Homo sapiens: one gene and its partners. The protein of the gene in region 5 purifies or fractionates together with the protein of the main gene of each other region. This does not show direct contact. Each region holds a gene or a part of one and is shown on either strand. Other genes may lie near its edges. The genes, in order: HPX, EDEM3, SLC25A13, DEF8, SERPINA1, ANGPTL7 and STATH.

What was found.
Region 1: the proteins of SERPINA1 (region 5) and HPX purify together in Homo sapiens (affinity purification with mass spectrometry, with the first as the bait; one large-scale study listed by BioGRID). This does not show direct contact.
Region 2: the proteins of SERPINA1 (region 5) and EDEM3 purify together in Homo sapiens (affinity purification with western blotting, with the first as the bait; one study listed by BioGRID). This does not show direct contact.
Region 3: the proteins of SERPINA1 (region 5) and SLC25A13 purify together in Homo sapiens (co-immunoprecipitation; one large-scale study listed by IntAct). This does not show direct contact.
Region 4: the proteins of SERPINA1 (region 5) and DEF8 purify together in Homo sapiens (co-immunoprecipitation; one large-scale study listed by IntAct). This does not show direct contact.
Region 6: the proteins of SERPINA1 (region 5) and ANGPTL7 purify together in Homo sapiens (co-immunoprecipitation; one large-scale study listed by IntAct). This does not show direct contact.
Region 7: the proteins of SERPINA1 (region 5) and STATH purify together in Homo sapiens (affinity purification with mass spectrometry, with the first as the bait; one large-scale study listed by BioGRID). This does not show direct contact.

What each region holds. Positions count from the first base shown.
Region 1 is NC_000011.10:6,430,988-6,434,487, forward strand, and holds the end of HPX (hemopexin precursor), read right to left. Parts: intron 1,031-3,500; coding exon 900-1,030; intron 817-899; coding exon 654-816; intron 484-653; coding exon 224-483; 3' UTR 62-223; downstream 1-61. UniProt on the Homo sapiens protein: Binds heme and transports it to the liver for breakdown and iron recovery, after which the free hemopexin returns to the circulation.
Region 2 is NC_000001.11:184,720,359-184,723,858, reverse strand, and holds part of EDEM3 (ER degradation-enhancing alpha-mannosidase-like protein 3 isoform 2 precursor), read left to right. Parts: intron 1-2; coding exon 3-108; intron 109-2,472; coding exon 2,473-2,570; intron 2,571-3,500. UniProt on the Homo sapiens protein: Involved in endoplasmic reticulum-associated degradation (ERAD). Accelerates the glycoprotein ERAD by proteasomes, by catalyzing mannose trimming from Man8GlcNAc2 to Man7GlcNAc2 in the N-glycans.
Region 3 is NC_000007.14:96,179,099-96,182,598, forward strand, and holds part of SLC25A13 (electrogenic aspartate/glutamate antiporter SLC25A13, mitochondrial), read right to left. Parts: intron 1-3,500. UniProt on the Homo sapiens protein: Mitochondrial electrogenic aspartate/glutamate antiporter that favors efflux of aspartate and entry of glutamate and proton within the mitochondria as part of the malate-aspartate shuttle.
Region 4 is NC_000016.10:89,951,755-89,955,254, reverse strand, and holds part of DEF8 (differentially expressed in FDCP 8 homolog), read right to left. Parts: exon of another isoform or gene 2,573-3,500; intron 1,879-2,572; exon of another isoform or gene 1,735-1,878; intron 1,013-1,734; coding exon of another isoform or gene 1,003-1,012; coding exon 879-1,002; intron 87-878; coding exon 1-86. UniProt on the Homo sapiens protein: Positively regulates lysosome peripheral distribution and ruffled border formation in osteoclasts. Involved in bone resorption.
Region 5 is NC_000014.9:94,385,803-94,389,983, forward strand, and holds the start of SERPINA1 (alpha-1-antitrypsin precursor), read right to left. Parts: upstream 2,801-4,181; 5' UTR 2,758-2,800; intron 1-2,757.
Region 6 is NC_000001.11:11,188,113-11,192,154, forward strand, and holds the start of ANGPTL7 (angiopoietin-related protein 7 precursor), read left to right. Parts: upstream 1-1,242; 5' UTR 1,243-1,467; coding exon 1,468-1,843; intron 1,844-4,042. UniProt on the Homo sapiens protein: Has a role in the formation and organization of the extracellular matrix.
Region 7 is NC_000004.12:69,994,526-69,998,765, forward strand, and holds the start of STATH (statherin isoform a precursor), read left to right. Parts: upstream 1-1,440; 5' UTR 1,441-1,500; intron 1,501-3,897; 5' UTR 3,898-3,912; coding exon 3,913-3,963; intron 3,964-4,240. UniProt on the Homo sapiens protein: Salivary protein that stabilizes saliva supersaturated with calcium salts by inhibiting the precipitation of calcium phosphate salts. It also modulates hydroxyapatite crystal formation on the tooth surface.

The DNA of each region.
Region 1 (3,500 bases), on a different chromosome or scaffold from region 5:
GGAGAAGTGCTAACTTTTCAACTCAAAGAAAGAAGATTGTTTCACGACCAAGGTCCCTTGATTCAAGTGAAGAAGCAATCTGTCTTTATTATGAGAAACTGGGGAGGTGGGGCCAGGCCAGACTCATGTCAGAAGGCCCCTCAGTGAGAAGCGAAGAAGCAATCTGTCTTTATTATGAGGAACTAGGAGGTGGGGCCAGGCCAGACTCATGTCAGAAGGCCCCTCAGTGAGTGCAGCCCAGGAGACTGGTCACATTCTGGGGTTGCGGAAGGGCCTTGGCTGCATTCAGTTTCTCCACATCACTGTAGCAGTACAAATTGGGACCATGGATGAGGTACAAGCCGGGACCATTGGCGGAACATGAGTTAGGGCCAAGGGACTTTTCCATACACAAGGCTCCGTCTACCTTCTCATGGGGCCAAGGAAGCTCTGTCCACGTGGCTTGGGCTCCTGACTTCAGGTCCAGCCACCACAGCCGCCGTCCTGGGGAGAAGGCACCAAACATAGCATGGCTTCCATGTCATGGGGATCCTGACCTAGGCCTTCTCATGCCCTGGGGATCCTGACCTAGGCCTTCTCATGCCCTGGTGGGGATCTATGCCACAGACAGGTAGCAGAACAAGCTGCCCTCTAAGCACCCAGAAGCCCCTCACCTGCCATGATATGGAGCCGAGAAGACCCAGGGCAGATAAAGGCCGCATCCACAGAGTCCAGGATAATCCCATGAGGGGTCCCGACTTCCTTCTCCAGCCGCTTCGGATAACCGCTTACTAGGGTATAGCCTCCCTTTGTCAGGAAGACATATACCTGGGTGCCCTGGAGGACAAAGGATGGTAATAAATACAGAGTTGGATATGCTTGTCCCAGTCTCTACCTCAAGCCTCTCCCCCAATACACACCTGGACCAGATAGAGTTTTTCTTCCCAGGAAAAGGCAGCATCCACTGCTGAAGGACCCTGGGGCCACTGATGAGCAATGGGCCAGCTATGCCAGCCATCCCGGCTGGTGTCCAGACGCCAGTAGTGGGTCCCTGTGGAATACCATAGGTTGCTCTAGGGCCGCTGGCAGAAGCCCAGGCAGAGAAGAGGCTAGTGATGAATGCAGAAATGAGTCATGAGAGGGAGAGAATGCATCCAGAGGCCAAGATGGAAGAGGCCAGGTGAGAAGGAGAAATAGAGCAAGACTTGGTCAGCAATGTTGGGCACTGTGCCCTGGCTGAAACTGGAATCAGCAGGTGCCTGAAAGAAAGGCAAGTGTGGAAAACAGTGGCTAAGTTTCCAGGTAAGGCCAACATCATGGGGTTGGCGGGCACTCCCTAAGGATTTCAGGTGTCCATGTACAGAGATGCGGTTATAGATAATGAAATACAGTGTCCAGAACTTAAAAAGGAAGCACCACTTCTACTGAATGTTCTCACTCTGGCTGTGTTCTCCAGTCTCTCCCTATGAGGTGGTGGAAGAGTGAGGGAGTAGCTGGGCTAGCACCCCGTTTTTCTTCTCCTCTTTTCACAACAACTTATTAAGGAATTATCTAGGCTCCCATTTGTCTTTTTTCCTCAATCCTCTTCAATTACACTTCTGTTTCCCTCAACCATTGAAATTGTTCTTATCCAGGTTGCTAGTATTCTCCAATTTGCGAAATCTCATGGTCAATTCTCTGTTCTCATCTGACCCTACCTCTCAGGAGCACTGGACTGCTCACTACTTCCTTCTCCTTTAAATGTCTTTTTTTGGAACTTGGCTTCTGTGACACCTGACTCTCCCAGTATTCCTCTTATCTTTTTTGACTACTCTTTTCTTCAACCTGATATCTAAATATTGGAATCCCCTACTTTGGGCCTCTTCTCTTCTCTCTCTACCTTCACTTCCTTGGTAATCTCACCTAGTCCAGGGGCTTTAAATGCCATCTATATGCTGATGACTTCCAATCTGTTCTCGTCAGCTCTGACTGACCTCTCCTTTGAGGTTTAGGCTCCAAATCAGCTGCCTACCTGACATGCTTATGGGGTGCCAATAGGCACCCAAAACCTAATATGCCCAAACTGATTTCTGCCCCCCACCAACACACACACTCCCTAGTCTTTCCCAATTTTAGAAAACAAAACCACCAGCCACTCAGTTGCTGAGTCCACGAAAGCTGAGTCATTCTTGAAGCCTCTTTTCCCTTCCCTACTCTGACTGATATCATTCATTCATTCATTTATTTAGAGACGGAGTTTCACTCTTGTTCCCCAGGCTGGAGTGCAATGGTGCAATCTCGGCTCACTGCAACATTCACCTCCCAGGTTCAAGCGATTCTCCTGCCTCAGCCTCCCAAGTAGGCTGAGATTACAGGCATGTGCCACCATTCCCAGCTAATTTTGTATTTTTAGTAGAGACGAGGTTTCACCATGTTGGTCAAGCTGGTCTCGAACTCCTGACCTCAGGTGATCCACTCGCCTTGGCCTCCCAAAGTGCTAGGATTACAGGCGTAAGCCACCACACCCGGCCTATCTTAGCTATTAGTTAATGCTGTCAGCTCTACCTCCAAAATATATCATGGTGATTCCTCACCACCTCTGCTGCTATCATCCTAGTCCAAGCGGTCATCACCTCTAATTTGGACAACTGCACGGATTGCTAGCTGGATTCCTTGCTTACATGCTTGTACTTTTATAACTTATGTTCTGCAAAAAGTCAGAGTGATCTTTTATAAAAAATGAGTTAGAATATATCACAGCCCTGCTCAAGACTTTCTGATGACTCCCTTTTATGGTTGAAAACCCTTACCAGGTCTAGGTAACCTGGCCACTGCCGTCCCTGCCCTTTCAAGTCACCCACCTGCTCTTTCTCTGTGTTCCAGCCTCACCAGGCTTCCTTCTTGATTCCTTGAAGTATGTGCTGCTCACCCTCCCTAAAATGCTTTTCCTCCAGCACATCGTGTGGTTAATTCCTTCTCATCACTGAAGTCTCAGCTCAAAAATCATTTCTTCAGAAGACAGCCCTCATTCTCCTCACCTCTATCCCACTATCCTGTCTTATTTTCTTTACAACCCTTAATATTACCTAAAATTATTCTCTTTCTTCCTTTCTCTTTCTTATTGTCCTCTCTCACTTTAGCAGAGCCTGTCAGGGCAGGCATCTTGTCTGCCATGTTGACTACTGTATCTCAGTGCCTAGGACAATGCCCACTTCTTATCAGATGCTCAACAAATATTTGTTGAGTAAATACCTAGTGTTCTTGCTGCTACCACAAGTTCTCTTATTAGCCGTGTACTGAGTATACAGCGGTGACTGACATATCCACCTCCCCTGGGAGGTTTCCCACTGAAATTACCCTGCTCAGGAACCATATTTATTTTATTTTATTTATTTGTTTTTTGAGACAGGGTCTCAATCTGTCACCCAGGCTGGATTGCAGAGGCACAGTCACGGTTCACTGCAATCTCTGCCTCCCACACTCGAGCAATCCTCCCACCTCAGCCTCCTGAACAGCTGGGACTACTGGTGCATGCCACCACA
Region 2 (3,500 bases), on a different chromosome or scaffold from region 5:
AGGAATATGCCAGAAAAGCTCTTGATTTTCTCTGGGAAAAAAGACAGCGAAGTAGTAATTTAGTGGGCGTGACTATAAATATTCATACTGGAGATTGGGTACGAAAAGGTATGTAAGTTAGGCTTTTTAAATCAAGCCTTTGCATCCTCAAAATGGTTGGGAAATAAAGAATTTTCATTTGTTAAAATAATCTTTGGGATACTATAAAGCATAGGTTCTCACAAGATTGCTGGAATTTTAATTAATTTAGCCAGATTTTCTTTTTTGATGCCAAATGTGACACACTTCTTCTACATGATTTAGTATTCTATTTCTTAATGGATATAGCATTATAGGTATAGGGTGTAGATGAAACGCTATAATTTATTTGAAAACTAGAGAACCAGATTTCTGCAGCCATCTCACGTCAAGGTGTGGTTTAGTAAGAATATGGGTTTAATAAATTCTTTTTTTCTCCTACCTCCAGAAATATAGTAGCTAAGAGCATAGACTCTGGGGTCATGTTGTTGGATTCAAGCTATGTGATCTTGGGAAACTTATTTAACCTCTGTGTGCCTCTCTATTCCATATCTGTAAAGTGGGCATATTAATAGTAATTAGTTGTTCTGTATGAGGATTAAATGAGTTAACCAAAGTAAAGTGCTTAGAACAGTGCCGGGCATGTACTACACTTACTATGAAGTAAGTGCCCAGTAACGAGATGTTAGTCCTTTTGATTAATAATTTTACTTCTGGGAATCTAGTCTGAGGAATAATACAAAACATAGAAAATTATTTGTTCCCAAGATGTTCCCATGCAATTATTTATAAATAGCAGAAAATTGGGAAACAGTCTAACCATCAGTAAAAAAAGCTAAGAAAATTATTTTACATCAGCGTTGGAATATTGTTATTAAAATAAATCAGGAGCATGGGAAGGAACATGTAACAATGTTATATGAACAAACAGGATATTGAATTGTACAAAGAACTGTGATTTTATCTTTATAAAACACCCTGATAAGCATAGATGAATGGAAATAAATTAGAATATTCTTAATGAAAGCATCTTTTTTATACATTTTCTCTATTTCTAAAAAGCTTATCTTGTTTATATGTAAAATAAATGGTAACTGCCTATATTTAAATAAATAAAAATTATAAAATTATTAATTCAAACATATTAAAATTATTACCTTTATTCAGTATTGTATAAAATTTTTCTGTGTCATCTAAATGACAGAAAAGAACTTTTGACTCTTCACAGTCAGTTATTTCAGTAATTCAGGGTGATACTGAGGAAGCTAAGAAATGACTAGATTTACCAGAACATTTGAAACTCAAGACAATTTCTTCCAAGTTCCTAAAAGCAAAATATTGAATGGCCACTGATGAAAAGTCATCTTGTGTATTCATTCACTGTTTTCTAGTATTTCACTGCTTATAACTGTCTGGTCTCATCTTGGTTATAGTTTAAAAATCAAATATTTTCCTACATCTGTGAATTAAATAGTACAGTGTGGTTACCATATCATACTTCAGCTGTTAAATTAAATCCATTATGTCATAACACTAAAAAGACTCATTTAAAAATGAAGATTTAAAATAACATAATATGTTGATTTAAATGTACCACTAGAAAAATGTTGTGTCTTACAATAGAAATGAAATGTATATAAATATGGGTAAAAAGACGAGTCACTAGTTTGAGATGAGAACTATTATTTTCATGGTAACGTACCAGCATGTATGTGCTTGTATAGCATACACATAAACAGAGAAGGCTTAATGCATTTATAATGCAAATACAAATGCATTAAATAGAAGTTTGATAGTGTATTATAAACCTAAGAGGAAAAATCCAGACTTGTATTTTTGATATTTTGTGCATCAACATATTGCTACAAACATGAAAACTGTGAAATTTTTAAAATCATTTCCTTGCAGTCATAGCATTGTACCATCTTCATTTTTGTCTAGAGTTGGTTCAGTTCTAAGTGGTCTAGACTCCACCTGCCTATCATTTTTTTTTTACTGGTTAAGACAGTAAAATAGGTGTTTTTTTGAATCTATAGGTTTCATTTTTGTGTTAGATAACATTTCTTCTTTTTAAGAGTAGATATTATTATTGTTCTTTAATTTTTCTTGACTTTGGTTCTTTTTTCCTTTTTAGGAAAAAGCAAAACAAGAGACTTCATCTTTAGATTTCCTCAAGATTTAAGTGAATTTACTATTCATTTATACATACCAATTTCTTAAAGAACACAAGATGCTTATTTTCCACCTAGTGAAACTAAGAGCTAATTAAACTATGAACTAGTTAGCAAATTATTTATTTTAAATATAATTATCTGTTCCAGGGCAAATCTAAACTGGTGTAGTCATATATATGCACAATGTTAATTTAATGCTAATCTAAGGAGTGCTATTTTTTTAAAAAAATTTAACGGTTTTAAAAAAATTTAATGAAAAATCACATTTGTGTTTCCATAGATAGTGGAGTTGGAGCAGGGATTGATTCATATTATGAATATCTGTTGAAAGCCTATGTCTTGCTTGGAGATGACAGTTTTCTGGAAAGATTTAACACAGTAAGTTGATACAATTTTATATTTTATAATCAACTTCATTTGAGTCCAGATTTTTATAGAAACTCCATTACCTGAATGACATTGTAAAAATAATTTTTAAAATGTGTAGTGGTTTTGTGTCAGTATTTCCTGATGATGTTGAACAGGGACAGCGTAAAAAGTGATATACATTCCAAAAAATCAGTTGATAAAGTAGTTTTATTTTCACCTTTTATCAGAAACTTTGCAGATCTGCCAATAAGAGATGTAATAGATTTGAGTTTTACCTAATCTTGTTTGTACAAGGATAAGAATTATTGAAATATGTTACTAGTTAGCTTTTTCCTTTGTATTTCAATTCTTTTTGAAATCTTGGAAGTTTGGCTTAGTCTTTGATTACACCAAGGATACAGGGCTTTGAAGACCTGGAGAAACTAGTGAGTATTCATTTCAAAAGCAAGTCTTAAGACTGGTTCAGAACCACAAGCATGTTTTTTTGGGAAAAGTGGGAGGATTATTGAACCCAATTGAATCACCTTTTTAACTGAAGCAAACTGAAATGAATATAGCAAACTCATCAGTTATATCACTATATTCTTTTTAAACTAATCTACCATTTCCTTGCTCACCTATCAGTTCATCCATGTTGTATGTATGAGACAGTATGACATGGTGATTAAAAGTATGGAGGAGAATGGCGTGAACCCGGGAGGCGGAGCTTGCAGTGAGTCGAGATCGCGCCACTGCACTCCAGCCTGGGCGACAGAGCGAAACTCCGTCTCAAAAAAAAAAAAAAAAAAGTATGGGAGATGTACTGGTTTAAATTCTGATTGTACCACCTACGGGTTTTGTGACTTTGGGCAAGTAACTAATATTATTTGCCTCTGTTTCTCATCTACAGAATGGGAGTACTAGTACTATTTATAGGGTTATTGGGAGGATTGAGTTTAT
Region 3 (3,500 bases), on a different chromosome or scaffold from region 5:
TATGATTATGGTCTGGAAAAAAATCAGTTCCTCAACTCCTCTATTCTGGGGCTTTCTAGAAGTAAAGAGAATTGGGGAAAACGATCAGATACTCCTGCAGTTTTTCACCATAGTACATGAGAACGTTCAGGATCCTGGTTATCTTTTCTTCTATCTAAACTATTTCCCTCCTACTGAGGTTTAATCTATCTCCCTTGTTTTAGTCTCAGCAACAGTAGCTGGTTATAAATTATCATTTTTGAGGTGTGGAACTAATTCATTCATTAACCTCTTCTCTAGGATACCTACACGTCTATCTTTTTGTCATATTTTTCCAATTTTCTAAGGTCATCAGTTGTTACTGTAGCACTCTCAAGTCTCTAACAATTCTCTCACCCACCTTAGATCCAGTGTGTGTCGCCTCAGTCTCAGATTACAATGCCCTGTGCTCACTAAAGTTAGCTCACTGTAGATTTCTGGAGATTGGCTAACCCAACAAATGATCTGTTGAAATCTTCTGCTCATTCTTATGTGGCTTCCTATAACCAAATACATGTCTTCTGATATTTTTATAGCTTAATGCTCTAAATGAAAACGTGCAGAAATTGGCCAAGAAAATAAAGACTCAAACCTATCCATTTTGCAATCATTAAAAGTTTTGGTGGACATGGATGGACATGAGTGCAGTTCACAGATTAACTATGGTTTGTTTCAAGATGCATGTGTTCTTAAGTAATGCAAAACAGTCATGGAAATTTCAATCATTTTATTTTGGTGCCAGAATTTTAAAGTTTATTTTATCCCCATGAATTATGCAAGAATGAAGAATCTCACTGTGATTCTAAAGAATCTGGATACTCCCTTTTATAGTACCATCAATGATAAGGGACCTGGCTTAAACTAGCTGCCTGCCAAAACTTCCCTCTGCAATATAAAAGTATCAATAACTCCCTGAGATATCACCACAACATCCTCTAGATGTCACCTTGAGAACATTCCAGGATGGAAGATGACTGCTTTGCACTACACAGACAACTTGAAATAGAAATATTTACAACTCTGCAAGCTTGGATCAATGGGCTGATTAAAAAATGTGGTTTTTTTTTTGCCAATTTCCTCAAAGGTTAAGCACTGCTTAAATTAAGTTTAATTCATAAAATGATCTAATTACTCTTTCTGGGAGATTTTCTTTAGGGCTTCTCCCATCAATAGAAACAAAAATTTTCGTCTAAGAAGTATTTCTGATAGACCCTGATTTCTATCTCTTTTTTTTTCTAAATTGAGACAGAGTTTCACTCTTGTCTCCCAGGCAGGAATGCAGCGGCACAATCTCAGATCACTGCATCCTCCTGGGTTCAAGCGATTCTCCTGCCTCAGCCTGTAGCTGCGATTACAGGCCCGCCATTATGCCCAGCCAATTTTTGTATTTTTAGTAGAGACAGAGTTTGGCCATGTTGGCCAGGCTGGTCTTGAACTCCTGACCTCAGGTGATCCACCCGCCTCGGTCTCCCAAAGTGCTGGGATTACAGGCATAAGCCACCGTACCCGGCCATATTTCTCTTAATACATCTTTTTCCCCAAGATTCTCCCAAAACATTTTCCAGTGTCTAAGGCTGCTCATCTCATCACCTGAAAGATCTGAGAGAGAAGACTGCAACAAAGTTTAAAAGCAGAAATTATTTATTCCTGGAACATTAAGAGCATTTAATTATGGATGATTACCCAATCAATTGTTGTTCTTTAATACGCCAGATCTATAGCAGGCCAATGACTGATTCATTTGGTTATGCCAGTCATTCAAACCAAACAAGTTGTCAGGTAATTCATTAAGGATTTCAAATACCTGAGCACATTAAATCACTCTGAAGACTGGGGAGGAAACAGAGAAAGAATTTTAAAAGTGACTTCAGGAAGACCTGGATTATCTCAGGTGTGATTTCCCTTAATACAGACAGGCTTGGCCTGGGGGTTGGATTTTCAGAAATAACAACAACAACAACAACAACAAACTAGGAAAATTTGCCATTTTCTTGTTAGGAAAAAAGTAGTTTGCACTGTAGAGAAGGTTTGCAGAGCCAGACTCATGGGATTTTTAAGGAGCTCTTTTCCAGCAACTAAAACTTACACAAAAATAGGAGAGAGGCTCCTGGAAATAAAGAAAACGGAGTTATACCAATACATGGAGAGCAGGAATTAACCAACTCACAACACCTCTCATGACTCTCTGAGGTATATTTCTATTGAAGAGCACTGCTAGGCACTCTCTCATGACTACCAAGCAACTTCCACAACTATTCTGATGCAGCCAGCTGCGGGGGAGGCAAAGAACAAAACTTGTGGTGGAGCACTACAAGAGTTCTTTTAAAATAACCTTCATTCTAATGCCACAGGGAAAGGCTTTTAAATGCAAAAACAGCTTCTGATATTCTTGTTATAAGAAAAAGAGATATTTATTAACCTCATAATAAGATCGCATGCTACAAAAACACCTTCTTTGAGGCCAGATGCCAACTTTTTTCAAAGTATACACAAAGGTAATTTTAAAGTAGGAGAAAGATCTTACAACTGCAACATTCCCAAATTATCTCATTCAGGAAATATGAGCAATTACATAGGCCTTGATAGAGAAAAATTACATGTTGAGCAAAATTCTGTAATACTAAAAACTATGCTCAATATTTAAAAACATGTATGAATTAAAGATGTACTCTGATACCTTCTCAAATATTGCTAGGTGAAAGCATTAATAGCAGCAATACTATATTTTCCTAATTTAAACGTAACAGTTTTCCTCTGGAATAATATAATTTTAAAATAAAGTTACATTTTATGAGAAATGTACAAAGAATCACATATAGGTATTTCATAATGTGACTTTGTACATAAAGGTGATAATACTGAGTCTCAGAAATATGTCAGGTCTTTTTTACTTATATTGTAATTTTTTAAATTAACAACAATAACCATGAGTTACCTACATTTTCATCTGATCTCTCTTACCCAATAAGCACTTACAAATATGCAGTTATATACAATTATTAATTATTGATGATGTACAAGAAACTAAAGAGAACTGATCCCTGACCAATCAAGAATAGGAACAAGTCATTTTCATGGCAAAGTTATGTATCATTATTATTTTAACCTGAACTGTCAGTCATCATTTTGCTCTCAAGATGATCCAAATTACAGAATGGGACTAAACAAAAATTTTACAGTAAATTTTTTGTTTTAAAATGGTTTACCAGAAAAGATATCAGGAAGAAATGAACACAGGTGACTCCTAGAACTAATCTTATATTCACACTCTACTCATCATCCTGACAGACAGCTCTGTCTCTTGCCCTTAAGGTTGGGGCACCCAAAGATAAATGGCCATTTCTAAACCAGGAAAAGGGTGAAGAGCTGCCACTTGGGTGTTTACAGTGAGCCTCTGTCTGTACCTAATATATTGACTTACTACTCCTCTGAGAAGTTAAAAGCAGTCACTCTCATCTTACAGATAAAAGAACTGAAACGGC
Region 4 (3,500 bases), on a different chromosome or scaffold from region 5:
GAAGTGGTCCTCAGACAGGCCGAGATCCATCACGCGTTCAGGGCAGCGGAATTCCGGCTCCCCAGGGGGCAGCTCAGGCAGGGCCTCTGGAGGAAGACGGGGACAGGTGTGGAGCGTCAGCTGCTACCTCCTGCCTCCCATCCCCTAGGGAGGAGCTGAGATAGCCAGGAGTGGGAAAGGGATTCAGGAAGCCGCACAGAAAGGAGGCACCGTGAGAGCTGGGCACCACTCAGATCTGCACACCGTCCAGTCTGCATTCACAGAGGAGCCCACAGCCTTGTGTAGACAGGAAAGAGCCACTCAAAATGAGGAGGTGGAATGACACTCGGTGCCAAAAGTCCTCAAGACAGCATTATAGAGACATCCCATTTCTAAGGTGGACACCTCATGCGTGACCACGGGGGCGAGAGAAAAACCACTGCATGGCTACACAGCAAAATCCACGAACCCCAGTGTCGACTCCAGGCCGTCTCTGCAGCTGCCCCGCTCCAAGCACTCCCTGATGACCTCATCTGCAGTTTCTAAAGCTCATGCCACCCTGACGCCCAGAGCACGTTCCCTCGGCTAACCTCTCCCTTACCAGGTCTCAGCGCTGACCGCACTCAGCAAGTGTTCCCTGAGCACCTACTATGTGCTGGGCCCTAGGATGCAGCAGTGATGGGTCAGGCACAAATCTTGCCCTCAGGAATGTGAATTCTAGTGGGGACACAGAAACAAACCACACGACCACAGAAGAGATGGGAAAAAGAACACAGCCAGCAGGTGCCGGCTCCGTGGGAAAGCCAGGGCTGCGCAGGACGCGGCAGGAAGAAAGGAGGGGTCCACGTAAGCAGTCAGAGACCTGCCCAGCTCCCACCCTGACTCCCACCAGCACCCACCTTCAGGAGTGACGTCCGGGACCTCCTCCCCAGGGCCCTGCTCATGCTGTCTCGGCCCAGACTGCTTGTTGAAGGGGTTGAGGTGGGCCTGCCGGAAACGGGCCAGCTTCTCATCATATTCCATAGCATCCCACCTGAGGGCCAGGCAGGGCCAGGATGAGTCCCCAGGTACCAGGCTCACCACGGACCACCCCCTTTCCCCAACCACACTGGGGTGTCTGGGGTGAGGCTGGCCTCTTTCACTTCCCTAAAGTGGGTAGTCCTCACACCACAGCCTTGATCTTCAGCCTTTTCCTGAAACACCTCAGCTGCCTCCTGCCCAGGCCCCCACTGGTGGCGTCCCCTTGGAAAGAGCTCACGGTGACAATGAGGGTCCCACGAGGGCACGTGGCCCATCTGAGGGGCCCAAGCTCCCTGCCTCCCAGCACAGGGTCCTCTTGCCCAATGTTGCAGAGCTCCAGCCCTAGAGCTACCTATGGGATCCTCTCTGGGCCTCAGCCCCAGATACTCACTCAGCCCCGCTCTAGCTTGCTATCCACCTGCTATGTGAGACACACCTCTCAGAAATGGGTTCCTCCTTCCTGGGCCCCAAGCAAAGGTGCTTTCTTGTCAGAGCACCCTGAAACCACAGCCCCTGTCTCAGGACTTAGGGTTGGACACTTGGGGACAGTTCCAGGGCCCATTCCTGCTCTGCCACAGGTGAGTGAGCAGGGCCCACCTTCCCCATGCCCAGGAGCAGGGGATCTTGGGAGGATTCCCTGCCAGCACACAGAGAAGCCCCCTACAAATGCATCCAGGCTCTCTGGCCTGGGTTCTGATCCTGTGATGAGCAACACGACCTGAACCAGGCCCACGGCTCTGTGCCTCAGGAACCCAGGAAACAGGCCGGAAGGGCCTAGTTCTCCACGTGGCAGAAGCTCAGGATCAAGAATTGCTCTTTCCCCACCCGGAGGCTCAGAACACTGCAGAACACACAGGGCTGATGGCTCCTGGCAGGGAGGAAGGGACTTTGGTTGGGGTGGGAGTAGAGGCAGTTGGCATCCAGCCCTCCCACTTAACTTCCTGGGCCACATTCCTTAGCCTCTCTGCCTCCATTTCCCCATCCGTAATGGGCCATTGTGAGGGTGAAATGAGTTAACAGAGACTGAGCACAAAGTAAGCTCGCTGTAAGGTCTGTTGATGTTATAGAAAGTCGGAGATGTCTTTTTAAAGTTGTTCAGTAACTGCAACAGTGTTAGTTATGCTTTCACTACACCTGCTACAGTGTTAGTTATGCTTTCACTACACCTGCTACAGTCTGAAATAATTCACAATTATAATAATCAATCCTATGATTTATCCTCTGTCTCTTCTCCCAAAAGAAAGAGAGCTGAGCCCAGAGGGGACGGCCCTGCTCAGGGTCACACTGTGGCCTGGAAGAACTGGGATTTGAACTAATTGCCTCACTGGCAGTGGGATAAGGAGGCCACCCCAACCCCACATGGCTGCCCTGCAACTGGGCAAGACTCCACACCACCTATGGGGCCTGTCCTGCCTGTTGTGCCTGTGGGGCAGGAGTGTGGGTTGGGCACCTGCACGCCAGCCTGAAAGGACAAAGCACCCATGGACAGGCTGCCCGTGGACCCCAACAGGGAGGCACGGGGAAGACACAGGGAACGTGAGTGGGCCCCAGTCCCACCTCCTTCTCTTATTACCTGATGACTGTGGGTGGGTCACAGAGTCAGAGGCGGCCACCCGATGCCAGCACCTCCCCAGTCTCCCAGGGAGCACCCAGGACACAGGAGAAATCAGGCCATCCCAACATCACTCCTCCTTCTTCCTGAATGAGGAGCCTCATTTTTGTTTGTCACATAATTTCCCAGCCTCCCCAGCAGCTAGACCTGGTAAAGTGACTGTTCTGACCCCCTCGGCTTGAGAAGATCAGGCAGATCTGAGCAGCTCTGGGCTCCTGGCTTCACTGACATACCCAAGTGCTTAGCCCTTCCATCCACCCCAGGAAGTACGTGTTCTCCCTGATTTATAGGCAAGAAAAGGGAGAACCAGAGACTAAATCAGGGCTATCTGAAAACAACAGTAATGGGCCGGGCGTGGTAGCTCACACCTATAATCCCAGCACTCTGGAAGGCCAAGGCAGGAGGACGGCATCCGGCCAGGCCCAATGCAATGAGGCCCTATCTCTATTAAATTTTATACAAATATGGGCTGGGCGCCGTGGCTCACGCCTGTAATCCCAGCACATTGGGAGGCCGAGGCGGGCGGATCACCAGGTCAGGAGATCGAAACCATCCTGGCTAACACATTGAAACCCTGTCTCTACTAGAAATACAAAAAATTAGCCAGGTGTGGTGGCAGGCGCCTGTAGCCCCAGCTACTCGGGAGGCTGAGGCAGCAGAATAGCGTGAACCCAGGAAGCGGAGCTTGCAGTGAGCCGAGAACGCACCACTGCACTCCAGCCTGGGCAACAGAGCGAGACTCCATATCAAAAAAAAAAAAAATCTTTTTTACATAAATATGTATGTGTGTGTATATACATATATATGTGTGTGTGTGTATACATACATATGAGAAAAAAGAAAAGACTTCTGAGAATTGTCCTTAAAGGTAGGGGCTGCCCCTCTTCAG
Region 5 (4,181 bases):
CCACACCCATCCATCTTTCCTGGTGTCACATCACCTACTCTGGTTTCCTCCTTTCACAGTGAAGAGTTTGAAGCCCAGAGAGGGTCAGGGCCTTGTTGAGGCTATACAGCAAGTCAGTGACAAAGCTGGAACAAGTCTTGGCTTTCCCAGCACTCAGATCATGAACTGAGACAGCTGTGTCCTCAGATCTCAGATGATGAATGTCAGAATTGGGCTGTGACATTGGTCTCAAGCATCATGTTGGGTTCATTATGCCTCCCAAGCTGTTCCTTATAACATCAGGACTCCAAAACCTGCTCTCTCCTGGCCCTTCTATCAGAGGCAGCACCCTGCACTCCTAAAAGCTAGTGCCTGGGAGGGCGACTGGAGAGGAGAAAGTCGCCATCTGGCCAAGTACCCCATGGTGTACGGACACTGAGGCCAAGCTTTAAACCAAAAGAATGAAGGCTTCATGGTGACATTTCTGGGATCGGGGCAGGTGGGAGCACTCTTTGCGGGGCCAGGGACAGGGAAGCGAGCCACTCCCTGCCTAATCTCACACCATTTCTACCCGGGAGCATAAAATAAGGGACCAAGAGCAACCCGGCAGGGTGCAGGGAAGAGAATCTCGCCTATGGTCAAACAACCTGTTGAACTGGGCAATAAATAAACCCAAGTGTGACCAGGCCCTGTCACTTACTGGCAGGGGGCCTGGGGTAAATGACTTCACTTCTTTGAGCACTAGCTTCATAGCTGTACAATGGAGAAAAGAATCCTTTGGACAGGGATGAGGAATAACTGACGTAATGCATGAGTGGGCACCAGGTGAGGAAGCCCTCCCTGTACCTGCACACAGGTTGAGCTCCTGCCCGAGAGATGGTAGATTTCTTCCCGGAGAGCCTGCTGCACTCCCCAGGACCATTTCAGCAGGAAGGGGCTCCTGCTCAGCAGTGAACAGCATCTGAGTTTGGCAAATTTTCCATTAAATTATCCAACTGTTTACTGCCTGCCAGCTGCCTAACCCTATGCTAAGCAAACATCAGCCTCAGCGTCACCATCATTGCCACACTTACTAACACCTGGTGTTTTACAGGCACCGTATCATCTAATCTGTCCTCAAAGCTTACCCTATAAGGTGCAAATTATTAGCCCTATTTTATAGATAGAAAAATTGAGCCCCAAAGAGCATTAAATAACTCACTAAAAATCACAGAGCTACTTGCTTACAAAACTGAGATGTAATCCTAAATGTTTTGTCTGGGATTAAACAGATTTCACTCCAAAACCTGACATTGAATCATCTCTGTGTACAAAGCTGAAGCCAGAAGTCTTGAATCAGAAAACTTCAGAGGCAGCCTGGCTAAATGAAGAGGGGAGCATCAGTCTGTGGCTAAAATTAAAGGCTCTGAGGCCAGATTGCTCCACGTCAACTTGCTATTAGCTGTGTGACCTTGGACAAGTTACTTAACCTCTCTGAACCTCAGTTTCCTGGAGATGAGAAAGGTGGACTTTGTCATAGAGCTATTGTGAAATTAAATACACATAAAATGCCAAGAAGTGCCTGCTGCGCAGCAAGTTCTCGAGAATACCAGTTCTTGCTGCTATTGCTGCAGGTCTTTTAGAGGCGTTCTATAGGAAACTGGCCACCTTGGCCTTGGTCATCTTTTTGACCTGTCTCCAAAACTCAGTGCAGGAAAAATTAAATCCTTCCAACACTTCAGAGATCAAGGTCGGGTGGGGTGAGGGGAGGGGACAGAAGTCAAAGGTTATCATGTTTTGCCCAAGAGAACAGAGAGGTTGAGCAACTGTCTGAAGTCACCGAGCATCAGAGAGGCCTCAAGTCCAGCCCAGGTTTCCTGTTCCCCATCCAGCGCCTGAGACCCAAGAGAAACAGTGACACTAGGGCCAGGTTCAAGAGTTTGGGGACTGGAGCCAGGTGCCTGAGCCCGAATTATGGATGGTGTGTGATTTGGGGCCAGTTATTCACCTCTCTGTCCCCATCTTCCTCATCTGTAAAATGGGAATCACACTAGTAACTGCCTTGGAGGGTTATGAGGCTTAATCACGCACTGAGCTTAGCCGTGGCCTGGTGCAGAGCGATTATTCAGGAATGCCAGCTTGAGCCCTGGGTGACAGTGCCCCTCACAGCTTCCTGTCCTCCACTGGGACAGGAGGGCCCAGAGGTCCACGGTGCATGGGGAGGCCCATTTTGATGTAAGGCTGAGGCCTGGCACAGGTCTGTTCCTGGTCATATCTGGAGGGGATGGAGAATGTGAGCCGGCGTTCCTCCCCACCCCTCTCTGGACCTTAACCTCCTCATCTATAGAAGGGGAGAAAGATGCATGCCCAAGCAGTAGGAGAGGTGGTGAGGCTTATAGGAGACAACAGACAGGAGCCCCCGACAGACAGAGGAGCTGTGCAAACAGAAAGAAATGGCTGCGCTTTGTTGCTGTTGCTGTATCTTGGCTGGTGTCCCCCATCCTGGGGTGCCAGGACTGCAGACCTAGACACCCTCATCCACTTCTGCTTACAGGAACCAGTGTATCCACCAGGAGGTACCGAGGGGGGACCGGGCAGGACTGGGAAACAGGACACAACCCTCATGGCTGCTGTTATTATGAAAATAGGAGCTCAGCTGCAGCCTCTCCATCTGCCCTGCACCTCAGCAGGCGGATACCCACTCCACAACCCCCCTCCTGCCCCAGACCTGCTGCCTGCCTGGGCCATGGGGAGCTCAGAAGCCTCTCCAGAACCTCTCGCAGTGAAAGGCATACTTACGATTCACTGTCCCAGGTCAGTGGTGGTGCCTGAAGCTGAGGAGACAGGGCCCTGTCCTCGTCCGTATTTAAGCAGTGGATCCAGAGGGGCAACGGGGGAGGCTGCTGGTGAATATTAACCAAGGTCACCCCAGTTATCGGAGGAGCAAACAGGGGCTAAGTCCACTGGCTGGGATCTGAGTCGCCCGCCTACGCTGCCCGGACGCTTTGCCTGGGCAGTGTACAGCTTCCACTGCACTTACCGAAAGGAGTCATTGTACCTGGCTCAGAAACCACAGCGTCCTGTGTCCAAGGTGGAGGGGGTGGCGTGAGTCAGACAGTCTCTGGGAGAGTACCACTTAGCTGGCCCTCTGCTCTCACTGCAGAATCCTTAGTGGCTGTTCCACTGGTAGCAAGATCTACCATTTACTGAGTCACCCCAAAATGCCTGATGCTGAAGACTTACTGCCGCCCTGGGAGATCAGAGTGGGTTAGAGCCCATTTGACAGATGAGGAAACAGGCTCAGAGCGGAGAGACCGCTCATCCAAAGTTACCCAGTCAGCCTTAGACACAAACACCCTCTTGATGGTCCCGATGGAAAAATGGAGCATGACTGAGGCAGACACAACCGTCAGGCTGGCATGGGGGGCCGTGAGACAGGGTAGAGGTGGGGAAGCACATCTGTAAAGAAGAGCTGTGCTGCCTCAGGCAGGCCGCTTCACCTCTCTGAACCAGGAACTGTTTCACCTGCATCCCAAAGAGTTGGAAGTTTCATTCCCAAGCATGCTTGTGAAGTGCCTCGGGTGAAGTGCCTGGCACACAGTAGGCTCTTTATGTGGGTCTGCACAGCCCTCTGCTTAGTCTGCCCCCCAGGCTGCTCAGAGCAGGAGGAGGTTCAATTTTGACCAGCCTCAGGCCTGTTTCTGTTTTTGCTCCTGGAAAACCAGTGTGATCCGTATACAGCTTGGAGTTTCTTTGGATACATGGCCCCCACTCTGGGGTTGTTGGAGGCCTTTGGAGACTGCTGGGGGTGGAGGGGAGGGGAGGTACAGGGTTGAGGCTAGTGGGGCCCCACTTGATTGCAATCCCTTTAAAAGCCTAAATCAGATTGCATCGCCCGCTGTGCAACCCGCAAACCTGCTTGGGAGCTGGCGTACGTGCCGTAGATACTTGCAGAGTGAATGGATGAGTGCATTTTTGCCCCTTCTGTCATTCACCAGTCCCATTTATGCCTCCACCTTGGGGCTCTACCAGGCGAGTGACCCACAGGATCCTCCAGCACACACATTCAGACCAGGGAACCCACTTACTGGCTGTGAGGCCTCAGGTGAGTTGTTTAACCGCTCCGAGCCTCAATTTCCCTATCTGTAAAATGGGGATGGTGACGGTATGTACCTTGTTGAGCTGCTGTGAGGATTAAAATGCAACAGTTCAAGGAAAGCTCA
Region 6 (4,042 bases), on a different chromosome or scaffold from region 5:
TGTGGGAAGGACCCACGCTGACTACAACAGTACAAGTAACTGCCTGAGTGGCTCCATAACATGGAAACAGCAATCGTATGTTCCAAAGACAGAGTTACTGTTTTAAGGACAGAGGAACCTTTGTATAGATTCTTAGTGAAAAGCTTATTTTAAGGATGTTTGCTGAAACTCCATGTTTTTCACATTTCTTTTCAAAAGAGCATTGTCCTTCATATATAGTACATGAAAAATTACAATATTCATGTTTTTTAGATACAAAGTCATATACAAATAGAGGAGGAATAATTTCAAATTGCAAACCATACCAGCAAAGAAAGAGGGAAATGAGACTCTAGATATGGATTTATTAGGTGACAGGGATTCTTTTCTCTATATTTTAATATATTTTCCAAGTTTTGAACCACGGGCTAAGGATGGGCCTGTTCTCTGTCCTGCCTAGAAACTGACAGAAGCATGGGTGACCAATCCCAGACATGCTTGGCACTGCTGAGTTTTCATCTCTGTTGTAATCTTCTGACACCTCCTTGCAAAATATCAAGTGTTATATGCTAATACTGGCCCTCTCTTTGTTGAAGGAGAAAGCATGTAAAAAGACAACTGTCCAAACCCTGTGGCTACAAAGTCTTTTTTTGGCTTCCTAAGAGATTTACTCTATTCTTCTATTTCTAGAACTTTTCTAAGTTGGAAGATTTCAAATGTGAGATAGTGTTAGATCCAGGTTGAGTAAGGATTTTATAAAATACTAAATAATGATCAGAGATGGGAATAATCAGCCTAGATAAAAGCATATTCAGCAGGATGTCAAAATATACCAGATCCTCATATAAACAGCATGGATTACATTAACAGGCCTCCCTGGGTGAGTAGCGTCTCTTTCGCCTACCTTACGCTCACCCCATGGTTATATAACCTTTTGAACGGAATTTGGAAATTCTTCTGACCCTGTCCTGCTTGCTGATAGAGTTGAGCCAGTGGCTGGCAGGGGCATAATCTAATAGGCGAAACTGGAAACACACAAATTCACAGTCCTCTTGTCTTAGCCCAGAGACTGTACAGGCAAGGAAAGAAAGACTCGCCCCATCTCCCTCCTCCCCTCCTCTGGCCTAAGTTGCCGCTGACTTCACCCAACAGGCACCTGACCCTCCCAGATGAGCTGGGAGGGGCTAAAGCCTGGTGCAGCCATGGTAGGGGTGGAGGTACAGGCAGCAAACAATATTTAAGATGCTGACTTGTGGAGCATTCGGGCTTGGAAGGAAAGCTATAGGCTACCCATTCAGCTCCCCTGTCAGAGACTCAAGCTTTGAGAAAGGCTAGCAAAGAGCAAGGAAAGAGAGAAAACAACAAAGTGGCGAGGCCCTCAGAGTGAAAGCGTAAGGTTCAGTCAGCCTGCTGCAGCTTTGCAGACCTCAGCTGGGCATCTCCAGACTCCCCTGAAGGAAGAGCCTTCCTCACCCAAACCCACAAAAGATGCTGAAAAAGCCTCTCTCAGCTGTGACCTGGCTCTGCATTTTCATCGTGGCCTTTGTCAGCCACCCAGCGTGGCTGCAGAAGCTCTCTAAGCACAAGACACCAGCACAGCCACAGCTCAAAGCGGCCAACTGCTGTGAGGAGGTGAAGGAGCTCAAGGCCCAAGTTGCCAACCTTAGCAGCCTGCTGAGTGAACTGAACAAGAAGCAGGAGAGGGACTGGGTCAGCGTGGTCATGCAGGTGATGGAGCTGGAGAGCAACAGCAAGCGCATGGAGTCGCGGCTCACAGATGCTGAGAGCAAGTACTCCGAGATGAACAACCAAATTGACATCATGCAGCTGCAGGCAGCACAGACGGTCACTCAGACCTCCGCAGGTAAGGAGACCAGTCCCCTGAGGGAGCGTGGAGTGCCTCCCCATCTACAGCACTGCTTCTACATATCCTGGTCATCAGAACCACTACTGGGGCCTCTTTTGTGGGTACACTTTCCCTTTAGTAAAGGCTTATGCAGTATTTCCTTTGACTTCTAATGCTATGTAAGTTTACCTAACACCTTCACGGGTCTCTTTTATCCACACAGTGTTTCAGCCTACCATCTTGGAGTGCTGAGATACTACATGGTTTGCCCAAAGTCACCCAGCAAGTCTTAGAAGCAGGGTTCAAGTCTTCCTGATTGGTGTAGCTCTGCTACTTCCTCACCAAGAGCTGACAGGCTATATCTCAAGAAATTCCAAGGAAGCACCAAACTGTAACAGCTGTTCCTCTGGAAGCAAAGTTTTGCCAGAAACAGTTCTCTGGTGTTCCTAAGATTTACCAGGAATGAGCATTAATGGAATTTTGTGTCCTCTCTCTGTAAACGTAACTCTTCTCATTGGCTCAGAGTTAAGTGTAGAGACACATAACCATGTGAAGAGTCCCTTTGTGTTCAGGAAGGATGCGGCTCCTTAAGGTTCCTCAATTGTGATACGTCTATTTTTTTCCATGGTCTTAAATGAATTTCTCCGAATACAGGATTTTTTAAATGCAATGCTGAAATATAGACTTAATAGGCCAAAAATAAGATAAATTTAATCTTTCTTTTGCAAAATAACTTTTATTTCTGGTTAGCTCAGCTCAGGTGGGCCAACATGAATTTACGGTTTAGAGATAAAAATTTGGTTTTCTGAAATTATCAGGAAAATATTAGTTGTAAGGAGCATATCCTATAGACATGTCATTTCTTGCTGATATAAAAACCATTGGTCCCATTATAAACTACATGAAGAACAAAGACATGATCAGCTTCTACTGACTAAGTCAATGGTTAACCTCAGCTCAAATTAAGAAAAAGTTTTAACATGAAACCAAGCTTGAAAATTCTGTTACCTGAACCAACATGTATCAATCACTTTCTAAGCATGGACTTCCGGGCCCTCAGTTTGGGATTAGAAAGGTATTCTCAGGCCATTTTCCAGACAAGTGAGTCCTGATTTGGTCTGTGAGATGAAACCAGACATGCGGAAGACCAGGCCAGACAGAGGAATCTGACCGTGCCACTTCCTGCTCATCCAAACAGGAGGCTTTCTCACCATCCTGCAAGGAGGTTCTTGGGGTCAAGTGCAGCTCTCCCACCAGGTCTCTTGCTCTTCTTGCCCAGGACATCATTCCTTATTTTTCTTCTCTATGACCAAGTGCTCAGTTACCCTTATATTCTATAAGTAGGTAGTCCCTTAGAGGAAGCAGTAAGTTGGTGCTTTCACCACTAAGACGAAATGAAGAATAGTGATGGCGAAGGCACACGTACTCTACCTCCCTTTCCCAAGGTGCTCTGCAAGAGAACCTATGTGCCTCAGACAACTCCCATCTGCCATCTTGGTGCTCCTCTCTAAGGTCCCAGTGCAGTGGTCACCAAGAAAAGCACCCCGAGACATAGCAGGCAGGAAGCTTCTCTTGGATAGTAAGGGCCGCAGTCTCTGAATCCTATCAGAAAAGGCTGTCTCTTCCACTATGCTCTTTGATATTTAGAATACAGAGCTTAAATCCTGCATAAAGTAGCAGCTCCATGGCCCTAGAGTAAAAAAACTGGCCAGTCTGATGCTCTCATTTCATTGTTTTAACAAAACTTCTGGGAGGAAGGCCTCAAAGGTTCTTCTGAGTGTTTTGAGGTGCTAGCTGGATGGAAGGGGAAAATATGTGATAATAAAATCTATCTCCCTTAATTATGGTCTCAGGTGGCAGTAGCCACCATCTCTGAACAACAACAAAAACAACCAACCAGGAAACATCAACAAAACCAGACTCTATGAGATATTCACGACTGATTTGTTATAGTGGCGGCTGTCTAAGAAGTCTGAATCTATCTGACAGGAGTATCTGTTACGTGGCCCTCATACACTGTAACATTTCTAGAATTCATGGCCCAGCTATAGCAGAATAATTTATTTCAGAGTTAACCTGAAACCACCTGTTGGAACGTCCCACTAATGCTATCCAGGTGAAGGGCTTCCCTACCCCTCTGCTCCACCGCTAGTAAAGCCAAAATACACCCCCTCTGGATCTCCCCATATCCACCTCTCCCAAATGCAGACACTGATG
Region 7 (4,240 bases), on a different chromosome or scaffold from region 5:
AGAATAAGAATAATATCTATCTAATTTAATTTGAATTATTTATTTGCCTTAAGAAATGATTTATATTTTCTTGTATATTACCCAGAGAGTAATCATAATTTCCAGTAAGGCTGTTCCAATACAGCATAAAAATTTACCTAATAAATACTTCCTTAAAAAATCTGATACAAAATTAAACCACAAATTATCTTTACTGGTTAAAGCCTAAGGATAACTAATGCATTCAAGAGACAAATATGTGGTTGTTTTTTTTTTTATGTTTTTGTGGAGATACGGGTCTCACTATGTTGCCTAGGCTATTCTTGAACTTCTATGCTCAAGCAATCCTCCTGCCTCGGCCTCCCAAAGTGCTGGGATTACAGACATGAGCCACTGAGACCAGCCTTGTTTCAAACTTCACAGTACCCAAAGAATCACCTGGAGATAATGTTAAAATGCAAACGCCTTAGGACAACCCCAAGATTCTGACTCAGCAAGTTTGCGAAGGTGGACTAAGAATTTACATTTCCACAGGCTCCAGCTGATGCTGTCTGTGATGTTCCCATATGGCACACTCTGAGGAACAATGCACTAGGCTGTATAACTTACCTCAACTTTATATATAAGTTTTTGATATTCGTTTCTTAGTACATTGAGTTATCCAACCAGCAGTGAGTAGGGTAATTTTTACACAAATTTTCCTAGGAATGTAATGAAAACATTTTTTCCTTCACTCTAGTGTAATCATGTCAACACATGGCTGCTATGGAAAAATATGTAGCCTTAAAAACTCCAGGAAATTAAATTGAATTTCCAAATACATATATTCAGTCATATGTGAGATATGTATCAGTGAGCACTTAGAGTCATTTCACCATAAATATAATAATTTTTTATCATATAGTACCCAAAAGATTACTGAATTTGGCAAATGTTTACGTTCACTTTGTAACTTAAAATATTCTAAAGTCAATAGAAGATGGTAAAAGTATGAGATAAATAATGATTTGAAGAAAAACTCTTGAAGTATATGAAGACTGTAATTTTATTATGCCAGTTACCACGAGTTATCAGAGAACATGTAAAATCTTGATAACATGGTAAGTATTATTTGTGTCATAGAGTTGTTCCACCTTGGACACATACTTGTGGAAACATCTTTATCACTGCAATTATTTCTATGCCTGGTTTCCTCCAGCATGCTTTTCTGTCATCTGACTCACTCAGCGCTAGACTAACAGTGGGATTAACATGCAGTGGGTACAGTTGTTTCCTGGTTACTTTGTCTTCACAATCATCTATTGCAAAATCACTTTGTTACGGTTATTTTTATCATTTGTAGAGACAGATTTTGGGCATTACTTTTAGTTTCCATAATGTGATCTCATAATTGCCATTATTTAACAAAAACAAATGGGGGACTTCAGAGTGTTTAAATACATTGGCCCTCTAGGGTAGCACATCATCTCTTGAAGCTTCACTTCAACTTCACTACTTCTGTAGTCTCATCTTGAGTAAAAGGTAATATGTTCATGTATAATCGAATATGTTGTCTTAATCTAGAGTGTTGCTTCCTAAAATCTTTTGAAAACTAATTATAAAAATGTGTATTTATGTAATGATAATTTCTCATAAAGAAACAATTGAGAGAAATGATGACCTTCTTAGGATCTGAAGGTAAGTTGAGAATCTGAATAACTATACATTGAAATCAGCAATCATCATGCAAAGTAAATAATGTGGAATATGGAGACATATTCCAACTTCTCTCCTGATGGAACTTCTGAAAAGCTTTTTATTTCCTTGTCTACGTACTGGCATCTACTCTGCTACTTACTACTTTTACCTTTATTCGAAGTTCATATTTTAAGAAAATAGCATACGTTCTCTTTTTTGCAAATGTATATATTGTTTCACAAGTTTAACTTTTAAAAATTTACTTTTTTCCCATAAGTAAACATTTCTCACTACCTTTTCATTGACCTTTCCATCATTTTAAACAGTTATGTCATTCTGCATAATAAAAAATGTTGTATAACAGTCATGCTTTACTGCCTTACTGTTTTATATTACTTAAGTTGTTTTCATTCAGTTGTGATATGGCAGAAAACAAAGATTTTACTATTTCATATTTTTATTATTTTTCATTGGGGAAATATTTTTTTAAAACCATGACATATATATTTATATATCTATGTCTATATATCCATCTTTCAGTTTATCAAGGTTAGTAAAACAAAACTACTCTTCTATGAGCATTTTTTGATTCCATACTTTCAATAAAATTTACAGGTATAAAATACACTAAAGTTTTTATGCTTTTTGCATCATAAAATGACTGATGGGTAGGTTTATCTATCAGGTGATAGAAAAACCCCAAAGTACATATTATTTTTACACTTACTCTAATACCAGAAATTTCCTTTTTTTTTTTTTTTTTTTTTTAATTTGAGACAGAGTTTCGCTCTTGTTGCCCAGGCTGGAGTGCAATGGTGCAATCTCGGCTCACCGCAACCTCCACCTCCCGGGCTCAAGTGATTCTCCTGCCTCAGCTTCCTAAGTAGCTGGGATTATAGGCACTCACCACCATGCCCAGCTAAATTTTTATTATTATTATTTTTAGTAGAGACGGGGTTTCTCCATGTTGGTCAGGCTGGTCTTGAACTCCTGACCACAGGTGATCTGCCCACCTTGGCCTTCCAAAGTGCTGTGATTACAGGCATGAGCCACCACACCCGGCCAGAAATTTCAGTTTGAATAACTGAGGCAAATCAGTGAATAAGTAACAAAGCAAATGCCATAAATCATGAGTTCTGCTTTATGTTTTGGAGATTTGGGGTTATTAATAACAGTAATTTTTTTTATAATTAGGTAAAAAATATTCTTGTAATGTTTTATCACAAGTTATTGGTAAAAGAGATTAAAATAATGAAGACCATTACCTTTATATGAATTACTCTATAGTTTTCAATAAACAGGTAAAAATGTCATTTATTTGTAACTCTTGTGGCAATTATGTGTTTCACTGAAAATGTCTTTATTTAGATGTTTATAATTTACAAATAAATAATCTAACGTTTTTTGTTTAATAACAAAGGAACTGGGTTAACTGGCTTATACTGTTTATGATAACATATCACAGTCCCAGATAAGGTTAATTTTGTTGAATGAGATTATTTAAAATATTAAGTCATCTTCACCAATTCAACTTCTCAGAGGAGGTACGAATATTTTCTCTGTGACTTCTTATCAGTTTGATTGTTCTCTACCCAGTATCATTAATGTTCTAATCTGAAGGTGACCCCATTTTTGCAACTCTCAAGACAGAAATCTGGCTCATTTTCAGTAACATTATAAAGCGATTGCCCATTGCTGGTCATTCTAACATCCAAACATCTCTTTACACTGTACCTTAAATATCATCCCTAATGTCATTATTTAAGGCGCCCCATAATATCCAGTTCTATCTTCCCTACATTTTGAACTGTTCCAGTTTTATCTTCTGATAAACTGCTCCAGTTTTATCTTCCCTACATTTTGAACTGTTTGCACTTTCAATATGGTATCCTCCCTCTTTTTCATTTTCTTGCAGTCACCCAACACCTCTTTACTCATCCTGCATAATCCAACTCAAGCTTTACTTTCTTCTTTACCTTCATACCCCTATTCTCTTGGTCTGTGTAAGGTGTTGATTTGTGTGTTACTCTAATGCCTTAGCATTTCCATATCAATACACTCACTTTTACTTATCAGTGTCTCCAACAAGTCTCCAAGTTTCATGATGTCAGGCAATGGGTTTTAATTGTCTTTCTATCTGGAGTGTGTCTCCCAGTGCTTTGGAGCGTAGTATAATCAATAAACTTTTGATGGGCGAATGCAAGAAAAAATGTGATACTGAATTTCCACATATGTTTTCAGAGAACCCAGCCAACTATGAAGTTCCTTGTCTTTGCCTTCATCTTGGCTCTCATGGTTTCCATGATTGTAAGTATATCAGGACATTTGAAGAATATGTTCTCAGTACCTATCCCAAGAGTCTCTCTATTCCTTGTGTTCTGGCATATATTGGTGTTTACTTGAATACAGCTTTATATGTTTAAATGTTTCCATATGAACTTTTTTTTGTACTAACCTACATAAGCTATATAAGGATTTAGAATAAATAGTCATTATTCATCTACAGACACTAAAGTATATTTAGCTTAGTGTGAAATAAAAGAAAGTTTTACTGAACTTCTTAAATATGTGGAACTGAGAGCTT